Homo sapiens: one gene and its partners. The protein of the gene in region 2 interacts with the protein of the main gene of each other region in a biochemical or structural test. Each region holds a gene or a part of one and is shown on either strand. Other genes may lie near its edges.

What was found.
Region 1: the proteins of CDC25C (region 2) and KPNB1 form a complex in vitro, tested with the Homo sapiens proteins (one study listed by BioGRID).
Region 3: the proteins of CDC25C (region 2) and PKN1 form a complex in vitro, tested with the Homo sapiens proteins (one study listed by BioGRID).
Region 4: the proteins of CDC25C (region 2) and MAPK14 form a complex in vitro, tested with the Homo sapiens proteins (one study listed by BioGRID).

What each region holds. Positions count from the first base shown.
Region 1 is NC_000017.11:47,652,918-47,659,944, forward strand, and holds part of KPNB1 (importin subunit beta-1), read left to right. Parts: intron 1-3,942; coding exon 3,943-4,143; intron 4,144-5,590; coding exon 5,591-5,743; intron 5,744-7,027.
Region 2 is NC_000005.10:138,286,802-138,293,828, forward strand, and holds part of CDC25C (M-phase inducer phosphatase 3), read right to left. Parts: intron 5,316-7,027; coding exon 5,169-5,315; intron 3,940-5,168; coding exon 3,838-3,939; intron 2,763-3,837; coding exon 2,700-2,762; intron 467-2,699; coding exon 368-466; intron 1-367. UniProt on the Homo sapiens protein: Functions as a dosage-dependent inducer in mitotic control. Tyrosine protein phosphatase required for progression of the cell cycle. When phosphorylated, highly effective in activating G2 cells into prophase.
Region 3 is NC_000019.10:14,457,293-14,464,319, forward strand, and holds part of PKN1 (serine/threonine-protein kinase N1), read left to right. Parts: intron 1-738; coding exon 739-848; intron 849-939; coding exon 940-1,083; intron 1,084-6,374; coding exon 6,375-6,450; intron 6,451-6,535; coding exon 6,536-6,677; intron 6,678-6,767; coding exon 6,768-6,861; intron 6,862-7,027. UniProt on the Homo sapiens protein: PKC-related serine/threonine-protein kinase involved in various processes such as regulation of the intermediate filaments of the actin cytoskeleton, cell migration, tumor cell invasion and transcription regulation.
Region 4 is NC_000006.12:36,100,787-36,107,813, reverse strand, and holds part of MAPK14 (mitogen-activated protein kinase 14), read right to left. Parts: intron 5,244-7,027; coding exon 5,165-5,243; coding exon of another isoform or gene 5,112-5,164; exon of another isoform or gene 5,050-5,111; intron 360-5,049; coding exon 186-359; intron 1-185. UniProt on the Homo sapiens protein: Serine/threonine kinase which acts as an essential component of the MAP kinase signal transduction pathway.

The DNA of each region.
Region 1 (7,027 bases), on a different chromosome or scaffold from region 2:
AAGAAATCGCTTTCTCAGATCTTTTGCTATTTGCATGGGATAGAGCTAACAGTGTGATAGGTTTCTGGGACCTCAACTTTACCTAAAGATAAAAATTGTCTTTGTCTTAAATCTTTCTCAACACAGCTTGTCCATTCCCATTGATGGATTGGAATTCTTTTTAGATGACTGAGGTAGGCTGCAGCAGTTTGGGAAACTTTAATTACGTGCCATAATTGGTAAAATCTGTTTGGCAAATGGGAGTAGTGTACAAATTGGTGCTACATTTGTATAAAAATTAGGGAATTTGTTAATAGGTATTTCCAAGCTCTCCAGAAATTCCGATTCGGTACTTCTGGAGTACAGCTCAGGGAATTTTTTTTTTTTTTTTTTTTTGGAGACAGTCTTGCTCTGTTGCCCAGGCTGGAGTGCAATGGCATGATCTCGGCTCACTGCAGCCTCCGCCTCCCAAGTAGCTGGGATTACAGGCACCCACCACCATGCCCAGCTAATTTTTGTACTTGAAGTAGAGACGGGGTTTCACCATGTTGGCCAGGCTGGTCTTGAACTCCTGACCTCAGGTGATCTGCCTGCCTTGGCTTCCCAAAGTGCTGGGATTACAGGAGTGAGCCACCTCGCCTGGCTGTTGTTGTTTTTAAATTAAGTTCTTTAGTGATCTGTCTTACATGGGTAAGGCACAAAGAGGAGTGAGTTAAATATCTGTGCAGTCATCATTTTGTCCTTGGTATTTGAGTGGAAACTAGTGGGGAATTCCTACATATGTACTTGTGCAGGACATGGTTATGCACATCATACTTGCTATTTCCTGGTTCTAGATATCAGCATTAGGTAAAGTAGTGCCCTGTAAGGCAGTAACTTCTGTATCTGGTTGTGTACCTCCTTCTGTCACCAATCTTGCATACCCATGATAAGGAGCCGGGTTATTAAATCCAACTTGGTTTCAAATCGTTTTGGAGCATGTAGAGCTGTTTCTATTCATGTTGGTTCTGCTTGTGTAATAACAACATTTTAATTCCTTCTCCCTCAGCTAAGTGACATAAATGGAAGTATATTCTATCACTGGAAATCTCGATACTGATAGTGCCCATTCAGTTTCTCATCTTCCTTAATTTACACACTAGTAAATGGGATAAGATGTAATTGGAATTGTAATTGGCTTATTTTTTGGCACATCACTCTTAACACCAACCCTTTAAAAAAAAATTAGACAATAATGGCTGGGCGCAGTGGCTCATGCCTGTCATCCCAGCACTTTGAGAGGCCGAGGTGGGTGGATCACCTGAGGTCAGGAGTTCGAGACCAGCCTGGCCAACATGGCGAAACCCTGTCTCTACTAAAAATACAAAAATTAGCTGGCTGTGGCGGTGGATACCTGTAGTCTCAGCTACTCTGGAGGCTTAGGCAGGAGAATTGCTTGAACCTGGGAGGCGGAGATTGTGGTGAGCCAAGATTGCGCATTGCACTCCAGCCTGGGTGACAGAGTGACACTCCATTTCTTAAAAAAAAAAAAAAAAAAAAAATTAGATAATTTGTATAGGCATGGTTAAGCCCTCGGGCATGAGAAAAAAGCTAACAGTACCTTGGCCTTTTTCCCTTTCATAGCACAACGATAACTAATACTAAGTTTCACTGTTGGTGATCTTTTTTGAAATCTGGATATTGGGGCACAATTGGGAGCTAGTTTCTCTTTTCTGATAATTGAATATTACTATTAAGGTTACCTCTAGTTTAAACAGAAAACTTTTAGTACTCAGGAGGTGGACATCCGTAGTTTCTAAATCACCTCAAGTAATATGGAGTCTTCAGAAAGCAATCTAAAGGAAAAAGGTAAAGGTAGAATGGGATTCAGTGCACTCCACATATGTACTAGGAGACTATGTAGTGTGGTGTGAAGGCACCCTGGACTTGGGTTAATAATACCCATTCAGCCCCTGATATTTTGGACAATTCACCTTGTTTTTCCCCCTCATTCCCTCGTGTCTTTGACATACCGTTTTTGTCCATTCTAGCTCTGCTAGTCCTCGAGAGCAAAGCCTTTCATTTAACATCAATCAGAACTGTTTGTAGTTGGGTAGAGCTGATGGGGGTGGGGGCCAGGGATGATGATATACCGTATAAGAAGGAAAGGGGGAGTTCATTATTGGTGCTAGCTGCAAAGCAGGATACTAAGTGATCCGACCCAGTCAGCAGAGCTGGCCTGAATATCTGGCAGCTATTCTTTGTCCCGTGTTCATGCCAGAACAGTTAACTGTTTGCCTTTGAGTGGACTACTGATTCTTAGTGAGTTCATTGACTGAATTAGCTGATCACGGTAATAATTAGCTCTAGGTCAATTGTGGCTTCATCTTTTATCATACCTGTGCCTTTACTCTTTACATAAATGGTGGCGTGGTTACCATGTCAAGCGAGACATGTTTAATGACAAGTGGATCTTGTTTTGACATCTGGCTAGATTTTGGTATCTGTCAGTGATAGAACAGTTCTTTGATTCTTGGGCAAACAGAACAAATCCTTTCAGATTGGAAGTTATATAAAGATTAGTTCATAGGTGTTATTAACATCAGCAACGTTGTTTTTGTATTTAGTGATGTTGTTACTTGACCAAGGCCTTTCTATGTAAGTCACCCCGAATGCTGAGTTGTTAGTGATTAGAAGGAAAAAGTTTTGTTTCAGCCCACGTCTCATGAGTAAGATCTCCTTGGATCAGATTAGACAGTGATCTACTGTGAATAAGACCCACCTGAATGCCCCAGAACTAGCTTCATTCTAGTGTCCATGTCTGTCTACAAAACGAGGGTGTGAACATCCTTTCCTTATAACAGCAACAATGAGCCTGGAAGATGAGTTTTGTCCCCATCTCTCTCCTTTGCCATTTACTGCTACCTCCTCTTGTAACTTCTGGTTTCCCACCTCGTGTTGAAGGTTGAAGTGAGGTGGGATGACTGGTTTTGTTTCTAGGTTCTAGGGCAGTGTTGATTATGCTGATGTTGCTACTGAGGCTGGTTTTTTCTGACAGCCTTTCCTACTTCTCCGTATTATAGATAAGAATTCTGAGGCCAGGCACAGTGGCTCACGCCTGTCATCCCAGTACTTTGGTAGGCCGAGGTGGGTGGATCACCTGAGGTCAGGAGTTTGAGACTGTCCTGGCCAACATGGTGAAACCCCATCTCTACTAAAAATACAAAAACTAGCCGGGCATGGTGGCAGGCACCTGTAATCCCAGCTACTTGCTGGGGGGAGCTAAGGCAGGAGAATCGCTTGAACCCAGAAGGCGGAGGTTGCAGTGAGCCGAGATCGCGCCATCATGCTCCAGCCTGGGGGACACGAGCGAGACTTTGTCTCAAAAAAAAAAAGAATTCTGAGACAGCTGCCTGGGCACAGTGGCTCACACCTGTAATCCTAGCACTTTGGGAGGCCAGGAATTTGAGACCAGCCTGGGCAACATAGGGAGACCCCCATCTCTACTAAAAACCCAAAAAAGTTAGCTGGGTGTGATGGCATGTGCCTGTAGTCTAAGCTACTCAGGGAGGCCTGGGAGGTCAAGGCTGCAGTATCGTTGTGCCATTGCACTATCGTTTTGCTACTACACTCCACCCTGGACAACTGACTGAGGCCTTGTATTTTCCTTTTTTTTTTTTTGAGCCTGGGCAATATGGTGATGCCCTGTCTCAACAAAAGATAGCTGGGCATGTCAGCATATCCACCCCTGTAGTTCAGTTACTCAGGAGCCTGAGGCGGGAGGATAGATTGCACCGTAGAGATTGAGGCTACAGTGAGCTGTGATCGTGCCACTGCACTCCAGTCCGGGCAACATAGTGAGACCCTGTCTTAAGAAAGAAAGAAAAAAAAGAATTCAGAGACACTAATATAAGTATGGTGGTGGGCAAAATGTGGTCAAATAGTGTTAGAAATTTGTATCTTTTGTCTTTTTTTTTGGTGCAGGTTTTGCAGACATTGGGTACAGAAACTTACCGGCCTAGTTCTGCCTCACAGTGTGTGGCTGGTATTGCTTGTGCAGAGATCCCAGTAAACCAGTGGCCAGAACTCATTCCTCAGCTGGTGGCCAATGTCACAAACCCCAACAGCACAGAGCACATGAAGGAGTCGACATTGGAAGCCATCGGTTATATTTGCCAAGATATAGTAAGTGCTTGCCTAATGTATCTGGTTTATATACCTCTGATTGCCTCTAGCTGTGACATCAATGATATTAGTACTACCTTATTGAATCACGAAGAAAGCCAAGCTAAATTGCACAGTTTTGAAAGTGAGACTGATTTATTTCCCTTAGGCCTGTGTCTTCACATTGCTAATCATGCCCTAAAGTAAAGAAACTTGAGGATCGCAAACTGAAAACAGAAGTCTATGTTTGAAGAGTCTTAGATTCTAGACTTACAAAATGAGGATATTCTCATTTGGATTATCCCTGACCCAGTCTTTTTTCTTAAGATCCCGAATGTACCATGAATGTTGTGGCGCATTTTCATTTACAACATTACGGAAAGTTTTGCCAACATTTGATGTAGTTGGTTTAGCCACTGGAGACACAGTATTTTAGATGTAGCCCCCCCAGCACTGTTGTTCCTGATGAGGTTACCACTCTTGGTGTGTATTTTAATATATAGACTTTATGAAGCAAAGGAGCCCACAGCACTTGACCCAGACTTAGACTCCCTAGATGTGCCTAGGTGTCGATCCTTGGCCTTGGCCCTTAAATGCCCTGAAGCTTTACTTTAGAGTACAGATGGCCTGGAAAATACGAACAGACTGCCATCTCCATTTGCACAGAAGTGGGGAGGAAAGCGAATATTACCTCATACCCAGAGTCATTATGCTAAGAAGTCAAAGATGAAGTTGATGAGTTTGACTTGGTTTTGTTCAGTTCTGGATTGCCAGTACCATGAGACATTTTGCAGGTGGTTTGCAGTGTTATTCCCAAATGGAAACGGGTGGGGAAAGATCACCAATTCATGATACTTTCTTGAGTGAACTTTACAGTTAAAAGGACTGCCAATTAAGCCAGGCACAGTGGCTTACACCTGTAGTCCCAGCTGCTTGGGAAGCTGAGGTGGGAGGATCACTTGAACCCAGGAATTTGAGGGTTCAGTGCATTGTGGTAGTGCCTGTGAATAGCCACTGCACTTTAGTCTGGGCAATACAGACCCTGTCTCTTAAGAACAGAAGAAGGACTGCTTCTGTCGTGAAGCTCCTTATGGCAGTCTTTTGGAGGGGATTGATTCCAGCACCCTCCTCAGGTACCAAAATCCTCAGATGTTCAAGTCTGTTACATAAAATGGTGTAGTATTTGCATATAACCTATGCACATCCTCCCATATACTTTAAATCATCTCTAGAATACTTACAATACCTAATTCAATGTAAATGCTATATTAATAGTTGGTATACTGTATTAAGGGAATGATGACAAGAAAAAAAGGTGTACATGCACCTTTTGGTGCAGTACAGATGCAACCATCCATTTTTTTTCCTCTAAATATTTTCAATCCATAGTTGTTTGAATCCACAGATGTGGAACCCATGGCTGCAGAGGGCTGACTGTATATTCATTGCACTTCTCTGCTTGTTACAGGACCCAGAGCAGCTACAAGATAAATCCAATGAGATTCTGACTGCCATAATCCAGGGGATGAGGAAAGAAGAGCCTAGTAATAATGTGAAGCTAGCTGCTACGAATGCACTCCTGAACTCATTGGAGTTCACCAAAGCAAACTTTGATAAAGAGGTAAGTTTTTTGACAATAAGGTATAGATTCAGACAGTAAGGGATGAAAGAGTTGAATGAAAGTTTTTTGTTTTGTTTTCTTAAGTTTATGGTTTAGAAAGTACCACCTACTTAAAAGTATTTGTTTCCAGTTTAGTCGAGTTCGTATTGTGTGAGATATCCCCATGGAGTGTTTGCCGTTTCTCATCATGCTTTTGGAAATAAAGTGTTTCTAAGCTTAGGTTTTTCCTTTTGCAGTCCAAAGTGTGGAATGTTGTTGGGTTTTTTTAAATTATAGGGCATGGTGGTGCATACTGGTACTCCAGCTACTTCAGAGGCTAAGGCGGGAGGATTGCTTGAGTCCAGTTATTCAAGGCCAGCCTGGGCAACAAAGTCAGATATCGTCCCTTAAAAAAAAGAAAGGAATAGGCTGGGCGATGTGGCTTAAGCCTGTAATCCCAGCACTTTGGGAGGCTGAGGCGGGTGGATCATCAGGTCAGGAGTTTGAGACCAGCCTGACGAACATGGTGAAACCCCATCTCTACTAAAAATACAAAAAAATTAGCCGGGTGTGGTGGCGTGCGCCTGTAATCCCAGCTACTCAGGAGGCTGAGGCAGGAGAATCACTTGAACCTGGGAGGCAGAGGTTGCAGTGAGCCGAGATTGCAGCACTGTATTCCAGCCTGGGCGACAGAGCAAGACTGTCTCAAAAAAAATAAAAAATAAAAAAAATAAAAGAAAGAAATTATGGTATGTACTATATATGTTGGTTTACTTTGGTTTCTTTTAAGATTGTGTGAATCTTTTGCCTTGTACTAAAGATTTTGTGGAGGCCGGGTGCTGGGGCTCACATCCAGTAATCCCAACACTTTGGGCCACCAAGGCAAGAGGATCACTTGAAGCCAGGAGTTTGAGACTAGCCTGTGCAACGTAACAAAACCCTGTCTCTAAAAAAATTTCTGTGGAGAAGAACAACTGAGTTGTTAACCAGTTTTGTGAGCTCTTGTGTTTACAGGGCTTATAATGGAAAAAAAATAATGAAAAATGAAATAAATAAAAATTATAGCAATTGGTCTGTTTCATACCACCTTAGGAAGGTGTTTTTAAGAAACAGGATATATAGCCAGGTGCTTTGGCACATGCCTGTAATCCCAGCTACTTGGGAAGCTGAGGTGGGAGGATCACTTGAGCCTGGGAGTTCAAGGCTCAAGATTTCACCACTGTACTTCAGCCTGGGCAACAGTGCAAGACTCTGTCTCCAAAAAAAAAAAATATATATATATGTATATGTATGTGTATGTATAAT
Region 2 (7,027 bases):
ATAGAGCTTGTAGATGGTCAATAAATGTTTATAGACCTGAACCACTGGAAGTATAGAGATCACTGCGAGGAATGTTCATGAATAGTAAGTGTTTGCAAAGTGCTTCAGTCCTTGGATTAATGTTTTTATTTCTAGGTAGGACCCCTTGGCTCCTACAGAAAAGAGGGAGATAGATCTAGGAGGGAAAGGGAAAGTAACCTGCTTAAGGTATACAGAATTAAAACAATGAGGACCTCAGCCTTGAGGTGCTTCAAATATGTAATCTTTGTCCTGACTCTAGAGTTCATAGACCCCTTTGTCCACAGACTCTTCTCAATAAAGAGTTATCTCCAGCCCTCCCCTACTAATGGCCACAATGTCGTCTCACCTGGATGTGTCCTCCCAGATACTCATATGGATAGCGACAATCAATGACATAAAACTTCTCAATCAGACCCTGGAACTTCCCCGACAGTAAGGCAGCCACCTGGACAGAAACAATGACTGAATATTCTGCTCACTGCCACTCTGAGGGAGAGAAGGGTCAATGACACAGTTCCTTACAAGCATACTCCTGTTCTGTCCACTGTATGTCCAGCCTCCAAAGTCACCCCATATTTGATATGTGGCAATGATTCAGCCCCACTCCACAAAAGAGAATGAAACAGGAAGTGGCCCTTTTAGAGAACCAAAATAGCTGGCACTGACAAGATACCAAGGAAAACCATATTCAGGCTACCCATCTGGGGATAGGCATGGCTGGACTCAGGAGATGCCCAAGGACTTCTGCAGTGGCAGAGGCAGCAGCTAGAGAGCTTGAAATTGCAGGAAGAAATGCAAAATGGTTCCCTACCCACCATCAAAAAGGAAGAAAGTAAGTCTTTCAGGAAAGGATATGGAAGGGAAAGGTTGATACCTAAAGGAAGGAAGAAACTGAAGCTACTTGTAGGAGTGCAAATTGGTTCAGCCTTTCTGAAGGGAACTTTGTAAATACATATACAAATAAATGTAATCACACTTTGACTCAGCAATTTCTAACATCTTAAGTAAACAGGAAAAGTACACAAAGATGTAGGCACAATTATATTCATCTCAGCATTGTTTTATATTATCAATATATTAGAAATAACTTCAATATTCAATAATAGGGGTTTGGTAAAATAAATTGTACATGTCAGTAGAATAGAGCGGCATTATATAGCCATTAAAATGATAATATAGATACCTTATTGATATAGAAAGATGTCTATAATGTCTCACTAAGCAAATTGCAATACTATACGTTCATCATGATCCTTTTTTTTTGTTTTTTGAGATGGAATTTCGCCCTTGTTGCCCAGGCTGGAGTACAATGGTGCCATCTTGGCTCACCGCAACCTCTGCCTCCCGGGTTCAAGCAATTCTCCTGCCTCAGCCTCCCGAGTAGCTGGGATTACAGGCATGCGCTACCACACCCAGCTAATTTTATATTTTTAGTAGAGACGGGGTTTCTCCATGTTGGTCAGACTCGTCTCGAACTCCCAACCTCAGGTGATTCGCCTGCCTTGGCCTCTCAAAGTGCTGGGATTACAGGTGTGAGCTGTGCTAGGCCCATGATCCCATTTCTATAAAACATATGCTAGAATAAAATCTGGGGCTGGGCGCAGTGGCTCACACCTGTAATCCCAGCACTTTGGGAGGCTGAGGAGGGTGGATCACCAGAGGACAGGAGTTTGAAACCAGCCTGACCAACATAGTAAAACCCCGTCTCTACTAAAAATACAAAAATTAGTCGGTGTGATGGCTGGCACCTGTAATCCCAGCTACTTGGGAGGCTGAGGCAGGAGAATGACCTCCGGGAGGCAGAGGTTGCAGCAAGCCGAGATTGTGCCATTGCACTCCAGCCTGGGCAACAAGAGCGAAACTCCATGTCTAAAAATAAAATAAAATCTGGAAGGCCATAGGAAAATATGACTAGTGGTTATCTCTGGTGATGAGATTGTGGGTATGGTGACCAAATAATTTTTGTACAAACTGGGAGACTTTTGAGAATGAAAGCAAACACTATTAATAATTACCCTCACTAATAGATGAAAATGGGATTGTAAAATGTAAACGAGGGTGCATGGTCACCCTAATTGAGACCTTAATTGAGACCATTTCTTGTGTGTGATTTTTTATTTTCCTTTCTTTCTCCCTTTTTTCTTAAGTAATTATTATTTTTTGAGACAGTCTCGCTGTGTCGCCCAGGCTGGAGTACAGTGGCACGATCTCTGCTCACTGCAACCTCCCCAACTGGGGTTCAAGCAATTCTTGTGCTTCAGCCTCCCAAGTAGCTGGGATTATAGGCACACATTACCACGCCTGGTTAATTTTTTTGTATTTTTATTAGAGATGGGGTTTCGCCATGTTGGCCAGGGTGGTCTCGAATTCCCTGCCTCAAGTGCCTGAGATCTGCCTGCCTCAGCCTCCCAAAATGCTAGGATTTCAGGCGTGAGCCACCATGCCTGACCCCTCCCTTTTTCCCTTTTACAAAAACTATGTATCATTTGTTTAACTAAAAACGAAGGAGAGAGAAGAATGGGGAAAAAAATGAGTCCTTCAATATAACTTCAGTTGAATAAGGAGCCTGTGTGAGTGAACACAGTGAAAGAAATACAAATGGAAATGGGCATTTTAGGGACAGAAGAGACCAGATGGTAGCTTATGTAACCAGTTACCATCTCCAGAAATCTGCTTACTGTTTCTGGGTTGACATACTTCAGATCTTGGTGTTTCCCTGACACGGTTGGCAGCGCACATACCTAGAAATACACAAGAGCTGAAATAACAGCAAGTATTCCACACCCAAGTTTGAGATCAAAGACCCTTATTTTGTCCTTCTTTCCAAGTGACCCTTAAAACCCCAGAGGCCTTCAAAAAAATCAGTGTCTCTATAAAGTGCATATACATCAAGTCCATTTCTAAGAACTGATCCTAAAGAACAAATCAAGGATGTGTACGAAGTTTTAGATTTCTCTACAAATATATTCATCTTGGTATCATTCATAAGAAAAAATTGTAAAACCAAATATCTTACAAGAAGGGATTTATGAAGAAATTATGAGCAGCCAAAAAAAAAAAAAAAAGAAATAATATGGAGCTATTAAAATGAAATGGGCTGGGCATGGTGGCTCATGCCTGTAACCTCAGTGCTTTGGGAAGCCAAGGAGAGAGAGGATTTCTTGAGGCCAGGAGCTCGAGGCTGAAGTGAGCTATGATCATGCCAATGTACTCCAGCCTGGGCAACAGATCAAGACCTTGAATCTTAAAAAAAGAAAGAATGAAGCATAACTGCTTATTAATATGAAAAAAGATGCCCCTGATATAATTATTAAATGAGAGGAAAAACAACAGATAACAAAACAATATAAACTGTTTTTGTAGAAAAGCAAAAACTGTATTTGTATATGTGTTTGTGAAAACACAGAAAAAAATCTGTAAGAATATGTACCTTCTGCAATTACACAGACAGTAGGGGGGAAAAAAAGAGTATATACTAAGCAATATTACCCTGGTTAATAAAGTTTGGGATAAATTTCTTCATTTTCTACTTTTTCTGTAACAACCAAGTATTATTTACATAATTTTAAAATATGTTTTTAAACAGAAAAAAGGTAAAAAGTCTCATACTTTCCCCTGTTCTGGATCTTCCCAGAAGAATAAGAAATACTTTCTCTCTGGAAAGGCTTAGGGCCTGGATCTACCACTAGAGCACTGTCAGGTTACCAAAGAGTACTTGGTGAGGATGCATATTTACACCAGGCATTCTCGGCAAACAGAGAAGATTCAGATCCAAAATGACTCACTGAAATACAGGATGGGTGTAGCCAAACTCACCTTGGAAAAATCACCAATCAGGTGCCCCTGGTTAGAATCTTCCTCCAGCATCTGAGTGATAGTAATGTCACACAGAGAGACTGTCTTCTTTAAACATAAGCCCTGAAGATGACAAGATTCCCACCCCACACCCAATCCTCATGTTAAAGGTTTAAAAACCAGTGGATGGAGTGGGCCATGGTGGCGCACATCTGTAATCCTAGCTACATGGGAGGCTGAGGTAGGGAGATCACTTGAGCCCAGGAGGCCAAGGCTATAGTGAGCTACGATTGCACCACTGCACTCCAGTCTGGGAGACAGAGTGAGACTCCATTTGTTTATTTATTATTTTTAATAATAAATAAATATTGAGGCTGCAGTGAGTCAAGACCATGCCACTGCAATCCAGCCTGGGTGACAGAGTGAGACCCCATCTCAGGGGAAAATAAATAAATAAATAAATAAGTTGATTTTATAAAATATCCAAAGATTTTAGAATTTTAATTTTTTATTTTATTTTTTTTTATTAGAGATGGGGTCATGCTATATTGACCAGGCTGGTCTTGAACTTCTGACCTTAAGTGATCCTCCCATCTATTTAATTTTTTTAAAGTTGGGGAGGGTAAAGGACAAAGGCTAAGTTTTTCAGAAGTTGCTTTCCACAAAACCAACCTGCTATATGATGTTGTTTCTGTCAGACTGCATGTAAAACAGCAGTAAAATATCCATACCAAAGTTCCCTTGTATTCTTTCAGATCTTAAGAAAAAGGGTTGGGAAGACGGTATGATGACAACATTTCTCTTTTTTTTTTTTTTTTTGAGACGGAGTCTTGCTCTGTTGCCCAGGCTGGAGTGCAGTGGCACAATCTTGGCTCACTGCAACCTCCACCTCCCGGGTTCAAGCGATTCTCCTGCCTCAGCCTCCTGAGTAGCCGGGACTACAGGCACATGCTGCCACGCCCAGCTGATTTCTTGTATTTTAGTAGAGACGGGGTTTCACCGTGTTGCCCAGTCTGGTCTTGAACTCCTGAGCTCAGGCAATCCGCCCGCCTCGGCCTCCCAAAGTGCTAGGATTATAGGCGTGAGCCACTGCACCCGGCCTATGACAACATTTCTAAAAGTACAATATAGATATACTTTATGTATCTATGTTATATAAATATTTTATATATATATATATATTTCACGTGGATACAGATGTAGAAAAGACAGAAAGATGGAAAGAACAAAGAGGAAAAAGTAAAAGTAAAGAGGAAGAAGACAAAAAAGGCATAATAAAACAATCCTCATACCAGAAAAGCAAAGACATGAGATAGAAGATGAACAAGATTTTCATCTTAAAAAGTTCTTACCTTCCTGAGCTTTCCTTGGCCAGAAAAATACTTTTTTTTAACTTTATCTGGTATTGTGTTGTCCTTGAATTTTTCCACCTGCTTCAGTCTTGGCCTGTTCAAGTTCTCTGGCATCGACGGGGAGCGATATAGGCCACTTCTGCTCACCTGTTTGGGAATATTAAACCCCCTAGTTCTTACTCCTCCAAGTGTGTCTGCAGACCTGCAGCAACAACATCTCCTGGGAGCTTCTTTGAAATGCAGGTTTCCAGATGTTAGGCCACACCCCAAACCTACTGAATTAAAATCTGCATTTTAACAAGATGCCCAGGTGATTTCTCAAGTTTGAGAAGCCTTGGGTAGGCAACCTGTCTTCATAGGCCCGTTAATATCTTTCTACCTGGACTGCATGATATTCCATCTCCATGGACGTCTTAACTAGCCAAACCAAATTCTGCAGCTGACTGTCTTAGATGCACCAGTTCTTCTAACAGAAAGCAAACACAAGCTCAGTCCCTCCAGTTATGTGACCAAAAAAAAAAAAAAAAAAAAAAACATAAGTCCATTTTGTCTCTGGGATCCTAGGACATTGACAATCAGGATTTAAGGACCTCAACAAACCTAAAGATGAAAAGCCAAGAAGAAAAATAGCAAAAGAAGCATCATGCAAGAAAAAAGGACACACTAAAATCAAATAGCATGCTGACCATTATAGGATGGATACTATGAAACCCATCAGGGAAAAAAAAGTGGCTCAAACGTCATGAAGAACTAGCCTTGAGAATTGCTTACACAGGAACAGATTAAAGTATAAGAGGATAGACTGTTGTTTATTTGAAAGGCATGGTTTGGGTGCTATATTCAGAGTTGAGGGTCTATCAAATGACCTCTGATAACACCTTCCAACTAATCCACAATTCTATCCTCTGTTGCCACATACTTTGAGATCTCTACCTCTCACCTAGAGAACAGGCAAAAGCTCCTTCTCTAAACACTTATCGCACTACCTGTTATGGACTGATTTAGGAGGGGGGCTATACAATAAGAGAGCCATAACTGGAAGGCAGCTTGATGATCAATGGTTTCTGGAAGAACGAAATAAGAATAACAACATTTTGCTTTATGACAGCTATGGATATTATGTTGTTTATCACACACATGGTCCTACCTCTTGTTCGTGATACCAGCTGATGGTACCGTCCACATTATACGTACCCTTAGACTCCTTCCAAACATCGCCCTATGTCCCCATCCACCCTACCCCCCAGACACTGATGACTGGACCATATTGCTGGTTGAACACATCTATTTAGTGGTCTAGAATAAGCAAAAATAATCTAGGCCAATCAGGTTCCCTCTCTTGGTTGCCTAACTTGGAAGATGGAGAAATAATTAGGCAGTAGCAGAAGCCAAAGCCCAAAAGGAAGAAGCCAAGAGATACAGTCAAGGCCACGAAGCCAGTGATGCATGAATGGATCAACCAAAGGTAGGGTAGGAAAGGAGATATGGTGAGGCACTGAGGAGTAGGGTGCCTGGTCTCCATGACAGACAGGACTTCATATAACTTCAATTTTCCCCTGAGAAGGCAGGGGAAAGCTAGATGAGGATTTCAAAAGGGGCTTCTCTAGAACACACCATAATAATTATGCTAAGAGCCATATTACTAAGAGTTTGGAATTAATTAGCTAATTGAAACTTATCTTTTTTTTTTTTTTTTTGAGATAGGGTCTCGCTGTCACTCTGGTTGGAGTGCAGTGGCACAATCTTAGCTCACTGCAACCTCTGCCTCTCAGGCTCAAGCGATCCTCCCAACTCAGCCTCCTGAGTAACTGGGACTACAGATGCGCATCACCATGCCCAGCCAATTTCTGTATTTTTTA
Region 3 (7,027 bases), on a different chromosome or scaffold from region 2:
ACTGAAAAAAAAAAAAAAAAAGAAAAAGATAATAGACATGCCCCTTTCTGCCAGGATTTTCTTTCTTTTTCTTTTTTTTTTTTCTTTTTTTTTTTTTTTGAGATGGAGCTTCACTCTTGTTGCCCAGGCTGGAGTGCAGTGGCGTGATCTCGGCTCACTGCAACCTCTGCCTCCTGGGTTCAAGGGATTCTCCTGCCTCAGCCTCCCGAGTAACTGGGATTACAGGCATGTGCAACCACGCCTGGGTAATTTTTTATTTTTAGTAGACATGGGGTTTCACCATGTTGGTCAGGCTGGTCTCAAACTTCTGACCTCAGGTGATCCACCTGCCTCAGCCTCCGAAAGTGTTGAGATTACAGGCATGAGCCACTGTGCCTGGCCGTTTTTATTTTCTCTTCTCTTCTCTTCTCTCTTTTCGACCGAGTCTTGCTGTGTCACGCAGGCTGGAGCGCAGTAGCACGATCTTGGCTCACTACAACCTCTGCCTCCTGGGTTCAAGTGATTCTCCTTCCTCAGCCTCCCGAGTAGCTGGCATTACAGGCGCGTGCCACCACGCCCAGCTAATTTTTTGTATTTTTAGTAGAGACGGGGTTTCGCTATGATGGCCAGGCTGGTCTTGAACTCCTGGCCTCAAGTGATCGCCTGCCTCAACCTCCTAAAGTGCCGGGATTACAGGCATGAGCAACCTTGTCTGGCTACTGCCAGCATTTTCTGACTGGGCCCTCTCTCCCATTTCAGGTGAAGTCAGCACTGTGCTTAAGCTGGATAACACAGTGGTGGGGCAGACGTCTTGGAAGCCATGTGGCCCCAATGCCTGGGACCAGAGCTTCACTCTGGAGCTGGAAAGGGTGAGCTGCGTTGGAGGACAGCAGGGCCTAGAGGAGGAGGGGTTCCATGCCTCTGGCACCCTGAGTGATGGCCCTCTTCCTCTCCCTCCAGGCACGGGAACTGGAGTTGGCTGTGTTCTGGCGGGACCAGCGGGGCCTGTGTGCCCTCAAATTCCTGAAGTTGGAGGATTTCTTGGACAATGAGAGGCATGAGGTGCAGCTGGACATGGAACCCCAGGGCTGCCTGGTGGCTGAGGTATAGCCCACACCTGACCCTGAGAAAATGCTTCTTCTCCCTCACTGCCCCATTCCCAGTTTCCTAGAAGGGGAAAATATGTTTTAGGTCTGGCTCTTCCAGAAGGGGAAGATAAGTTTTAAGTCAGGCTTTTCTAGAAGAGGAAAATAGATTTTAGATCCAGCTCTTCTAGAAACGGAAGATATGTTTTAACTCTGCCTTTTCTAGAAGGAGAAGATACGTTTTAGGTCAGGCTCTTCCAGAAGGGGAAGAGACGTTTTAGGTCTGCTTTTTTCTAGAAGGGAAAGATATGTTTTAGATCAGGCTCTTCTAGAAAGGGAAGATAGGCTTTTGATCTGCCTGTTCTAGGCTGGGCGTGGTGGCTCATGCCTGTAATCCCAGCACTTCGGAAGGCTGAGGCAGGAGGATCACCTGAGGTCAGGGAGACCAGCCTGGGCAACATGGTAAAACCGCGTCTCAACTAAAAGTACAAAATTAGCTGGGCGTCGTGGCACATGCCTTTAGTCCCAGCTACTTGGGAGGCTGAGACAGGAGAATCGCTTGAACCCAGGAGGCGGAGGCTGCAGTGAGCTGAGATCCCACCACTGCACTCCAGCCTGGGCGACAGAGTGAGACTCTGTCGCCCAGGAGTCTCACAAAAAAAAAAAAGATCTGCTTGTTCTAGAAGGGGAAGATACATTTTAGATCAGGCTCTTTTAGAAGCATAAGATATGTTTTAGATATGGTTTCTCTTAATACAGAAAGATAGTTTTAGATCAGGCTCTTTCAGAAGTGGCAGGTATGTTTTAGACCCGTGTATTCTAGAAGGGGAAGATACATTTTAGATCTGTCTCTGAACCTTGATAGAAAAGTACACCTTGGCCAGGTGTGGTGGCTCACGCCTGTAATCCCAGCACTTTGGGAGGCTGAGGCAGGTGGATCACTTGAGGCCAGGAGTTCCAGACTAGCCTGGCCAACATGGTGAAACCCCATCTCTATTAAAAATACAAAAATTAGCTGGGCATGATAGTGGGTACCTGTAATCCCAGCTACTTGGGAGGCTGAGGCAGGAGAATTGCTTGAACCCAGGAGACAGAGGTTGCAGTGAGCTGAGATCACGCCATTGCACTCCAGCCTGGGCAACAGAGTGAGACTCTTGTCTCAAAAAAAAAAAAAAAAGAAGAAGAAGAAGAAGAAAAGCACTTCTAATTAGCCACATCAGTGATAGGACCTTAGCTGGGATTGGTTTTGTTCTGAGGCAAGATACTTAAAAAAAAAAAAAAAGAAGAAGAAGAAGCTGATTTCCAAATTTAGAAATGTTTAAAGAAAAAAGGAAATAAATTATAAAATTTCTTCCAACCAGGAAAGAGATACAAAACCTGGCAACATATCGTGGTGATTGCTACCAGAGCCACAGTCAAGAGAAAGTGATTCCTTCCACAGCTGTGTGAGGGTGAAGGTCTGAATTGAGGTGGCCTACCCTTGGCACTGTTGACATCTGGGGCCACATCATCCTCTGTGGTGGGGCTGTCCTGCATACTAGAGGATGTAGCACCTCTCCCCACTGCTTACAGGATGTCAGTAGCACCACCTCCCCCTGAGTTTTGACAGCCCAGAGGTCTCCAGACACTGTCAAGTGCTCCCTGGCCGGGAACCCCTGGTCTAAATGACATTTCTAGCTGAGTTCTCATAGTATAAGCCAGGCTCTGTAGCGAGTACTTTGGCGACGTGAACTCATTAATTCTCACAACCAACCAACAAAAGAGGGACTGTTATTACTCAAATTTGACAGAGGAGGAAACTGGGGCACAGAGAAGGGGCACTTGACCCCTCATTTAGCCAAATTATCCTAAAAAACTCTTTTAATCTTCCGCTAACCTATATGTGTACCCCATTTTACATATATATATGATAGATTACCTATATATGTATACACACACATATTATCTATTATTTACCCACCTACGTGTCCATCCATCCATTTTGTCTGTCTATGCATTCATCCATCCATCTTTTTTTTTTTTTTTTTTTTTTGAGATGGAGTCTCGCTGTCTCCCAGGCTGGAGTGCAGTGGTGCGATCTTGGCTCACTGCAACCTCTGCTTCCCGGGTTCATGCCATTCTCCTGCCTCAGCCTCCCGAGTAGCTGGGACTACAGGCACCCGCTACCACGCCCGGATAATTTTTTGTATTTTTAGTAGAGACGGGGTTTCACCCACCGTGTTAGCCAGGATGGTCTCCATCTCCTGACCTCGTGATCTGCCCGCCTTGGCCTCCCAAAGTGCTGGGATTACCGGCGTGAGCCACCGCGCCCGGCCCAGCCATCTTATCAATGCATCCTCTATCCATTGATAGATACACCTATATTATCTGTCTTATCTATGTATCCATCTATATTAGGTATCTATATCATCTATTTATCTAATCCATCTATCCATTTATCTATCTCTATCTATATATTATCTATCAACCAATCTATTTTTCCATGCATCCGTCTCTATTATCTGTCAGTCATCTTATCCATCAATCTTATGTATGCATCATCCATCCATCTATCCATCCCTGTATATTTCTCTGTATATATATCTACCCATTCCTCTCTCTATCTCTATCTATCCCTCTCTATATCTATCTGTGCCTCTGTTTTTCTCTATATAGCTATATCTATCTATCCATCCATCTATATTATCTATCAACTAATCTATCTTTCCGTCTACCCATCTGTCTATATTATCTATCCATCTATATTATCTATCTATCATCTTATCCATCCATCCATTTATCTTATCTATGCTCATCCCTCCATCCATCCATCTCTGTATATTCCTCTATCTCTATTTATATCCACCCATTCCTGTCTCTGTCTCTATCTATCCCTCTCTGTATCTATCTGTGTCTCTCTCTCTTTTTCTCTCGATAGCTGTATCTATCTATCCATCCATCTATCCATGCATCCTTCTCTTTCTATGAATCCCTTTCTCTATCAGTCCCTCTCTCTTTCTCTATCTGTAACTACCCTTCCGTCCATGCCCCTCTCTATCTACCTGCGTCTATATCTGTCTCTTTCTGTGTCTATTTATCCATCTCTCTATATCCATATCCCTAAGCAGAGGTTCTCCCCTGGTCTGACCATCAAGCACCAGTGAAAGAAAGGGGCGGGGCCAGGCACAGTGGCTCACACCTGTAATCCCAGCACTTTGGGAGGCTGAGGCGGGCAGATCACTAAGTCAGGAGTTCGAGACTAGCCTGGTCAACATGGTGAAACCCCGTCTCTACTGAAAATAGAAAAATTAGCCGGGTGTGGTAGCAGGCGCCTGTAATCCCAGCTACGCGGGAGGCTGAGGCAGGAGAATCAGTTGAACCTGGGAGATGAAGGTTGCAGTGAGCCGAGATCGCATCATTGCACTCCAGCCTGGGCAACAACAGCGAAACTCTGTCTCAAAAAAAAAAAAAAGAAAGAAAGAAAGGGGCGTGGAGAAGAGCTGACTCCAGATGGCAGAGGTTTAAAATTGTTCTCCCATTCAGAACACAGCCCAAACCAAATGGAAAGTGATGGTGGGTGGCCTGGGGGACACATTCTAAAGCGTTTCTCCTTGCCTTCAAGGTCTCTCTGTGGCATTCTATTTTGTTTTTATGCCTATACAGAAGCATTCTTCCATAGAACTTTTCTGCAGCTCTGGCCGGGCGCTGTGGCTCACGCCTGTAATCCCAATACTTCGGGAGGCTGAGGCGGATGGATCATTTGAGGTCAGGAGTTTGAGACCAGCCTGGCCAACATGGTGAAACCCTGTCTTTACTAAAAATACAAAAATTCGGCTGGGTGCGGTGGCTCACGCCTGTCATCCCAGCACTTTGGGAGGGTAGGCAGGCAGATCACCTGAGGTCAGGAGTTCAAGACCAGCCTGGCCAACGTGGAAAAACCTAGTCTCTACTAAAAATACAAAAATCAGCCAGGTGTGGTGGCGCACGCCTGTAATCCCAGTTACTTGGGAGGCTGAGGCAGGAGAATCACTTGAACCTGGGAGGCGGAGGTTGTAGTGAGCCAAGATCGCACCACTGTACTCCAGCCTGGGCAACAGAGTGAGACTGTGTCTCAAAAAAAAAAAAAAAGAAATTAGCCGGGCTTGGTGGTGGGTGCCTGTAATCCCAGCTGCTCGGGAGACTGAGGCAGGAGAATCTCTAGAGCCTGGGAGGTGGAGGTTGTGGTGAGCCCAGATTGCGCCACTGCACTCCAGCCTGGGCAACAGAGTCTCAAAGAAAAAAGGAACTTTCTGCAGCTCTGTTGTCGATGCACCCACAGTAGCTGAGTTCTGTTGTAGATGGAAATGTTCTCTATCTGAAGTGTGACCAGTGTGACCAGGGAACCAAAGTTTTAATTTCGCTGACATTTTCACTAATTTAAATCGCCACATGTGACAACCATACCAGACACTGCAGTTCTGTGACTTCAGCACCTTCTAGAAGTTGTATTGGAGTTGGGAGAATTCAACTTGACAGGTGGCTTCCATAGATGGGTGGGCACCAGCATTGCCTGGGGGCTTGTTGAAATACTGAGTGCTTTAGGGCCGGGCACGGTGGCTCGCGCCTGTAATCCCAGCACTTTGGGAGGCCAAAGTGGGCAGATCGCTTGAGCCCAGGAGTTCAGGACCAGCCTGGCCAACATGGTGAAACTCCGTCTCTACAAAAATACAACAATTTGCCAGGCATGGGGGTGCGTGCCTGTAGTCCCAGCTACTCAGGAGGCTGAGGTGGGAGGATCTCTTGAGCCCGGGAGGTGGAGGCTGCAGTGAGCCGAGATCGGACTACTCATATGTGCATATATATATGTGTGTATATATATATATGTGTGTGTGTATATATATATATATATAGAGAGAGAGAGAGAGCATGCGCGCGCTTCCTCCACTCCATGTTTCTGGCTCAGTAGGTCAAACCTGCGTTTCTAGAAAGTTCCCAGGTGTTGCTGCTACTGCAGGTCTGGGGTCTGGGAGCACATGTGGGGAATGGGGTGTGGGATGGCGTGGCGTCCGTTTGCAGTCGCTGTCTGTCAGTCTTGTTGGGTCAGATGCTCTCCCCACCTCTAGAAAGGGACCCGGTTGTTTGCTTCTTGCTTTTCCAAGACGTCCCTTCAGGAGGGGAGCCATGGGTTGCACCGATGACCTCTTCATTGTCACCTGGTACTCGGGTTGAATCTGATGCCACGTGACCAGAACCCCACTTGGGCGCGCACACCTGTGCTCCCAGGGGCTTCCTTACCAAGCTGTCTGCCTGCAGGTGGGCAGAGGGTCCTCACATTTTGGTCCCTTCCCCCAGGTCACCTTCCGCAACCCTGTCATTGAGAGGATTCCTCGGCTCCGACGGCAGAAGAAAATTTTCTCCAAGCAGCAAGGTGAGAGGGTGCTCCAGGCTTCCTGGGGGAGAGGCCAGGGGTCCTGGGAGTGTCATGGAGGGTGACGCCTGCCCCGTCCCCCCAGGGAAGGCGTTCCAGCGTGCTAGGCAGATGAACATCGATGTCGCCACGTGGGTGCGGCTGCTCCGGAGGCTCATCCCCAATGCCACGGGCACAGGCACCTTTAGCCCTGGGGCTTCTCCAGGATCCGAGGCCCGGACCACGGGGTAAGGAAGGAGGGCCCCATGGTCCCGGCTGCCCCTTGAAGCCTGCGAGGGTCCTGGGTCCCAGACACACCCTCCTCTCGTCTGCTGCAGTGACATATCGGTGGAGAAGCTGAACCTCGGCACTGACTCGGACAGCTCACCTCAGAAGAGCTCGCGGGATCCTCCTTCCAGCCCATCGAGCCTGGTGAGGGTCCCCCCTTCTATCCCCGTAGGCCTGGCCTGGGCAGCGTCAGGGGTCCTGCTCCAGGCTCAGAGACCACTAGGAACTTCCCTGGAGCCACGCAGCATGTCTGTGGCAGAACCAGGGCCCAGATCTCTATGCTGGTTAAAACGTGTGCCCAGATCCCCAT
Region 4 (7,027 bases), on a different chromosome or scaffold from region 2:
CATAAGTATCTCAAAGGTCCAGAGAGTATCACTGTCTACAACAGTTTCCACCAGAGAACATATTCATTCTGCATTAGAGACCTCATCTACAAGCTTTAGCAAGTTGGTTATGACCATTCAGTTTTTATTTTTCCCACCGCTTTTGGTTAGTGGTTCAAGATGTTAATCCTACCCTTAGGACTTACTTTTCCACTCATCTATAAGGAGGTCCCTGCTTTCAAAGGACTGATCATAAGGATCGGCCACTGGTTCATCATCAGGATCGTGGTACTGAGCAAAGTAGGCATGTGCAAGGGCTTGGGCCGCTGTAATTCTCTTATCTGAGTCCAATACAAGCATCTTCTCCAGCAAGTCGACAGCTATCAGTACCATAGACAGGAAGGAAAAGAGTTTTTAACATGTTACAAAAAAGTATGCCTTATTGAGCAAACATAGTTTTGACCCTTCATATCCAAACAAAGAACTCTCCTCCAAAATACCTACTCTAGGATATATTAGCCCTCTTCTCCTTTATGTGTGTATGTGTGTGTGTGTGTGTGTGTGTATCTGTATTTTCTATGTTTTAAAATTTTTTTATTTTATTTTTGATTTGGGGGTACATGTGCACATTTGTTACATGGGTCTCACCACGGACTGATGGGGACTGGGCTTCTAGCGTGCCCATTAACCAAATAGTGAACATTGTACCCGATAGGTTATCTCTCAACCCTCACCCTCCTCCTGTATTTTGTATTTTTAAAGAATATGTTACTAAAGAAGAATTTTTTTAAATGACTGGGATTCTGTTTGAACAGGCTTTTGTGGACCGTCAATGTCAAACTGCTACCAGTGTAGTCAAACTGTATAAAACAAAGCCTACAGCTGAAGTAACCTACAATAGGTAGGCAGGGCTGTTTTTTTTTTGTCCCCCTAAGCTGTTTATTTACTAACATCAAATATTCATCAACAGATCTTCAAACAGTGAATAAACTGGGGGTTTTACATGGTGATGAGGGTGAGACATGGTATTAAAATCAAAGGGAATTTTATTTTTAAAAATTTCACTATGAAAAATTTCAAATATACAGAAACAGAAAAGTAAAAACTATGATAAAGTGAACACTCATATGCCTAGCATATTCAACAATTAACATTTTTATATTTCTGTATTTATATGTATTTTTTTCTGAACTGTTTTAAAATAAAATTATAGACATGACACTTTACCCTCCCCAAATATTTCAACACGAAGACATCTTCCTATATAATCATAATACTGTTATTATCTCTGACAAATAATTTCTAAATATCATCTAAAATCCAGTTCATGTTAAGATTTCTCCAATTATTCCAACGTTGTCTTTTAGAACTAGTTTGTTGAAACCAGGATTCAATTAGGGGCCATGCACTGCAACTGACTGGTTTTCTTTAGTCTCTCTTAGTCTAGAATAATCTTCTTACTTCTAAGCCCTGTTCTTTCCTGATTTTGATCTAAAGAGACCCTCTGATTGTCCTGAGAATGACCGTTTCTCGGGATGTGTCTGATTTTGCTTCTTTTGCTGTCATGTGTCTATACCCTGCTTTCCACTATCCCCTGTACTTCCCAAAAACCGGAAGTTAGGTCAAAAATTTTGGTAAGAATCAGGTTAAACATTTTCAGCAAAAATACAGGTGATGCTGTGCACGTGACAGTGCATTAAGGCCATCTGTCCCACTACTAATGAGCTAAAATTGATCACTGGGTTAAGATGTTTCCCCTTTGACCAAAGCAAGTAATCTGCGGGATATTTTGGTACCAAGTAAATATCCATTCTTTTCACTTATGGCTTTCTGCATTCACTGGGTTTCCTTCCCAAAAGCAATTATTTCATAAGGGGTTACAAAATGGTAATTTGTCTAACTCTATATTTCAAATGAGTATTTTTGTGTTTCAGCATGGTGGCACTTGGGAGAATAAATACTGCCATATAACCAGTTATCACTGTGGTGAAAAAGGCTTTTGAGACTTTGCAAATTACTCCTTAAATGTGGAGGGTGTGGGGGTGAGTAGTGAAGAGGACAGCTTCCTATAGAGATCTACTGCTGTGTATATTGGAGGCTGTAAAACACCCGTCCTACAGCTTGAATTCCAGAGTAATCCACTGGAGAAATATGGGCTTCAAGGGGATACAGAAACAAAGTAAATATTCATGTGTCAATTCAAGTTCATAAGTTTACACTTTACAGTACTAGGTGAATGCCTGGATTATATATATATATATTCTTCTGATGGTCTTCTCTTCTTAGAAAAAGAAACCTTATCAGCTGTTGATTTTATAATTGAACACAGATTATACGACAAGTCTCTGTTACCCTTAGGGTAAAAAGGACCATGTTCTTATAACCAATAAGGTCAGGGGCAAGAACAAATTCCTCAAAGATCTTATTAGCTGGGCATGGCATTATGTGCCTGTTGTCTCAGCTACTTGGGATAGGGAAGAGGAAGGATCACTTAAACACAAGAGTTCGAGGTTATCATGAACCGTGACTGTGCCACTGTACTCTAACCTGGGTGACAGAGTGAGATGCCATCTCTTAAAAAAAAAAAATCTTGACAGATAAATACATACACTAACATCAAGGGGTAATTTAAGTTTTAATTCATGTTTTGGGAATAGCAGTGAAACAAAGTCAGTGGCTGACAAAACAGAGCTGTTAATATTTATATTTCTGGCATGTTCCTGCTCAGTTAATATGCTGGGCACGAGCTTGTGATAGTAACACTGTGCTCCATCTGCCCAGCAAGGGGAGCCTCATTATATGACATCACTGTTTGGCAATGGGCTGTAAGGCACGTTTAAATGCTGAGAAGTACAGTGCTGAGCACCAGATGGACCAAAGCCTCCTTTCAACTCATTAGCAAAGTGGTATCTAGTTCTTTTGGAGGTTTCAATGTCATGATTTCAAAGAATGGGAAGACCTATCAGGAGGTATGTGACCTAAATAAGCTGCTGGAACACAAATATCTCCCCTCTCCCCCTAAAAAATGAATTAACACATCTTTCTGAGTCTGTTAAGAGGGTGTCAGTGAGTACTGCCCTGTTCAAAACTTAAGGCTTATAAAATGAAACAACTTCAGAACAGAATGACGACAAGAAAGAACACGACGGGCTGGGTGCAGTGGCTCATGCCTGTAATCCCAGCACTTTGGGAGGCCGAGGCGGGCAGGTCACGAGGTCAGGAGATCGAGACCATCCTGGCTAACACGGTGAAACCCCGTCTTTACTAAAGATACAAAAAATTAGCCAGGTGTGGTGGCACACACTTGTATTCCCAGCTACTCAGGAGGCTGAGGCAGAAGAATCACTTAAAGCCGGGAGGTGGAGCTTGCAATGAGCCGAGATCGCACCACTGCACTCCAACCTGGACGACAGAGCGAGACTCTGTCTCAAAAAAAAAAGGAAAGAAAGAACACAACATCTTTTCCCAACATCCTGTAGTACTTAAGGCTCAAAGAGAGCTTCTCACAGACCCTTGAACTAGATAATACAGCTCAAATAAATCACACAAAGCCAATGAGAGCATGCCAGGGCAGATGCAAACCTAAGCCAGTCTCAGTAGAATCGTACCCACCCCTGATGAGACTGTGGATTCATCCTAGGGCAGGAGAGCGACCCAGCTGAGATATGACATACTCTCTGTCTCCAAGGCTGACACGAACTCATCCACAACTGCCCAAAACTTCAAAGAGCGTGAGTATCTCTGCTATTATAAGAATTATCACAGCGACACTAAAATTCCTCTCCATAATCACTATGGATGAAGTACTTAAAAAGGTAAAATCACCTAGCCTTCACCCCAGCTTCTAAAGAGGTCAGCATGGCTGTCAGCCCTCAAAAAGATAAAACTAAACCTGAAGCATAGCTGCCAAGACCCTTAAGAAGACAGATGACCCAAACAGATGCAAAGAAATGCAGTGAGATTTTAAAACACACCACACAATACAATCTTAAGAAAAGTGAGAAGGCAGATTATACTCGTTACCATAGCATAGCTCCCTTCCCTATTGTAGGGAGGTCCTGGTCTGATCCTTCTGTGTCCACCATTAAACAGCACTGTCCACTGTCCTCTTCAAGAGTCAGGGAATGAGCCTCAGGCAAAGCAGCTTTCAGGGGCCATCTGAAGCACACATCACTCCTCCCCTTCAAAGAATATAGTCCGCCAGGCACAGTGTCTCACGTCTGAATCCCAGCACTTTTGGAAGTTGAAGTGGGCAGACTGCATGAGTCCAGGAGTCCACGATTAGTAAGATGGTGAGACCCTGTCTCTACAAAGAATTCTTTAAAAAATTAGCCAGGCTTGGGGATGCATGCCTGTAGTCCTAGCTATTTGGAAGGCTGAGGCAGGAGGATCACTGGAGCCCAGGAGTTCAAGCTTGCAGTGAGCTATGATTGTGCCACTGTACTCTAGCCTGGGTAAAAGAGCGAGACCCTGACACTACCAAAATAAATAAATAAATAAATAAATAAATAATAATAATAAAGCAACTCCTTTTTTAGCCAAGGCAACACATATCTTCAGCTGCCACCATCACTTCCCTCTGCCAAGGATCTTGAAGGCATAGGAAGCCATTCCTTTAAGTTTAGGTAGCAAATAAGCTCCACAAACAGGAGAGGACGGTTATGCCTCTGAGGGCAGAGAAAGAAGAGGAGAGGGGAAAAGTTCATGAGTGTGGAAGACGACAGGATCTGTAGCAACGGCAGCTACCGTTAGAGCAGAGCACCCTGCAGGGAGCTCCTGGGTGGCTCCTCTAAACACCCACCTGCACTTCAGTGGTTTCTGTCCTCCACTCAGAGACACCATAAATCCACAGCAGTTGTGAGCAAGTTACAGCTTTCTTCTGTATCTGCTTCTTCCTGCCTCACCAATCTTTTCTCTCAACATTCCCATTACTTTCTCTCCTTTCTCCACTGTACCTGCCCATTCCCCCAATCCCAAGTTCTGTGATCATTTAAACATACAATCATCTCATGTGATTAAAAAAAAATCTGACAACACAAATAGATAATAAAAGCCGTATTTATCACCTTCCAAGATTCAACTAATGGTACTTTATTTGGTCAAAAGGAGAAACTCTTCTTCAAATCCCCAATTTATATCATAACCAATTCAATATCCATGAGGTGAGGATATATGGTCAACTTACCCAGGGGATTGGCACCAATAAATACATTCGCAAAGTTCATCTTCGGCATCTGAGTCAAAGACTGAATATAGTTTCTTGCCTGAAAAAACAAGGGTTTTCAGAATGACTTTGTTCAATAATGTTACTGCTCTCAAAGAAAGAATCTTGGTCCTGCTAAGGAACGAGTGTTAACTGACAAAGTCCACTAACTTCAGTGTTTCTAACTGTCTTTGATAGAACTTCTCCCTTACTGCCATCCTAACTTCCCTAGTTATGATCATCACCTTCTTTATTCCTGCTATCTCTCACAGTTGCATTTCAAGTGAACGAGAATGCTCATCAATCAAATTCTCTTTCATTAGCTTTCTGATCACAGGATGAGAAGTTTAAAAACTGAGGCCAAGATATGTAAGAAGTAGCCCTGAGACAGCCTTCTCAAACAGCTAAATTGGTAGAGGGGTTGGTATTCCCAAAGCAAGTCTTGGACCAGCAGTCTTTTGACAGTGCTGACTTCAGTAGGTGCTCTTAGTACATCAAAGGATATCAATATTAAACCTTGCTAACAAAGTAACGGTGGTAACAAAAAAGTTAATATAAACTTAATATAACAGTCCTACCTCACAGGGTTGGAGTGAAGATTAGAGATAACAAACCTAGTACTTTCTTAACACAGTACTTGGTTCCAAGTGACAGTTCAAGAAACATTATCTGCTATCCCACTATCACCTTCAGAAGCAAAGTCTGCTGTCTATCTTAACCACCTCTTTAAAACTCCTGTTTTAATACAGTCCAACAGTAAAAGTATGTATGTATATTTATGTTTACACATACACACACAAGTTTATAAAAAGTTCTGGTTGCCCAGGCACGGTGACTCACGCCTGTAATCCCAGCACTTTGGGAGGCCAAGGTGGGCAGATCGCTTGAGCCCAGGACTTTGAGACCAGCCTGGGTAACATGGTGAAAACTTGTCTCCAAAAATACAAAAAATTAGCCAGGTGTGGTGACGCATGCCTGTGGTCCCAGCTACTTGGGAGACTGAGGTAACAGGATCGCTTGAGCAGGGAGATGGAGCCCAGGAAGCTTGAGCCCAGGAGGTGGAGGTTCCAGTGAGCTAAGATCGTGCCACTGCACTCCAGCTGGGGTGACAGAGTTAAGATCCTGTCTTAAAAAAAAAAAAATCTGGTTGCTTGGGCAAGTTCACCTTCTTTATTTATTAAAAAAATTTTTTTAGAGACACAGTCTCTGCTCTGTTGCCTAGGCTGGAGGTCACTGGCACAATCACAGCTCACTATGGCCTCTAACTCCTGACTCAAGCAACCCTCCTGCCTCAGCTTCCCAAGTAGCTGGGACTACAGGCATGTGCTATCATGCCCTAATTTTTAAATTTTTTTGTAGAGCTGCAGTATTGCTGTGTTGCCCAGGATGGTCTCAAACTCCTGGGCTCAACTGATCCTCCCATCTCAGCCTTCCAAAGTGCTGAGGTTGCAGGTGCACGCCACCACACCCAGCCTTCCGCTTCTTAATTATTGCATGTGGAGTCAGGAGGAAAGGTCTGCTTTGAAAAGCAATTGAGAATCTTTCTGATTTGAAAAGAAAGTTTTAGGAATTGAATACATAAATGGCTGTAATCCCTTTCTACTTGAACATGTAAATAAAAAGAGGAAGGGAAAACAGGTAAGAGAGAACTATCTCATTCAGAGAACAGTCATCCCTTTAATAAAGATAAATCAAAAGACGACCTGAATATAGCTGAAGTAGAAACAAAGCTGCTGGGAAGGGCCCTCTGTGATGCCAACCTGGTTCCCCAAAATATTAAGGGTATCTTACAAAGAAAGAAGTGCCCCAATCATCTCTGATAATAAAACAAGAGTTAGACTAAGT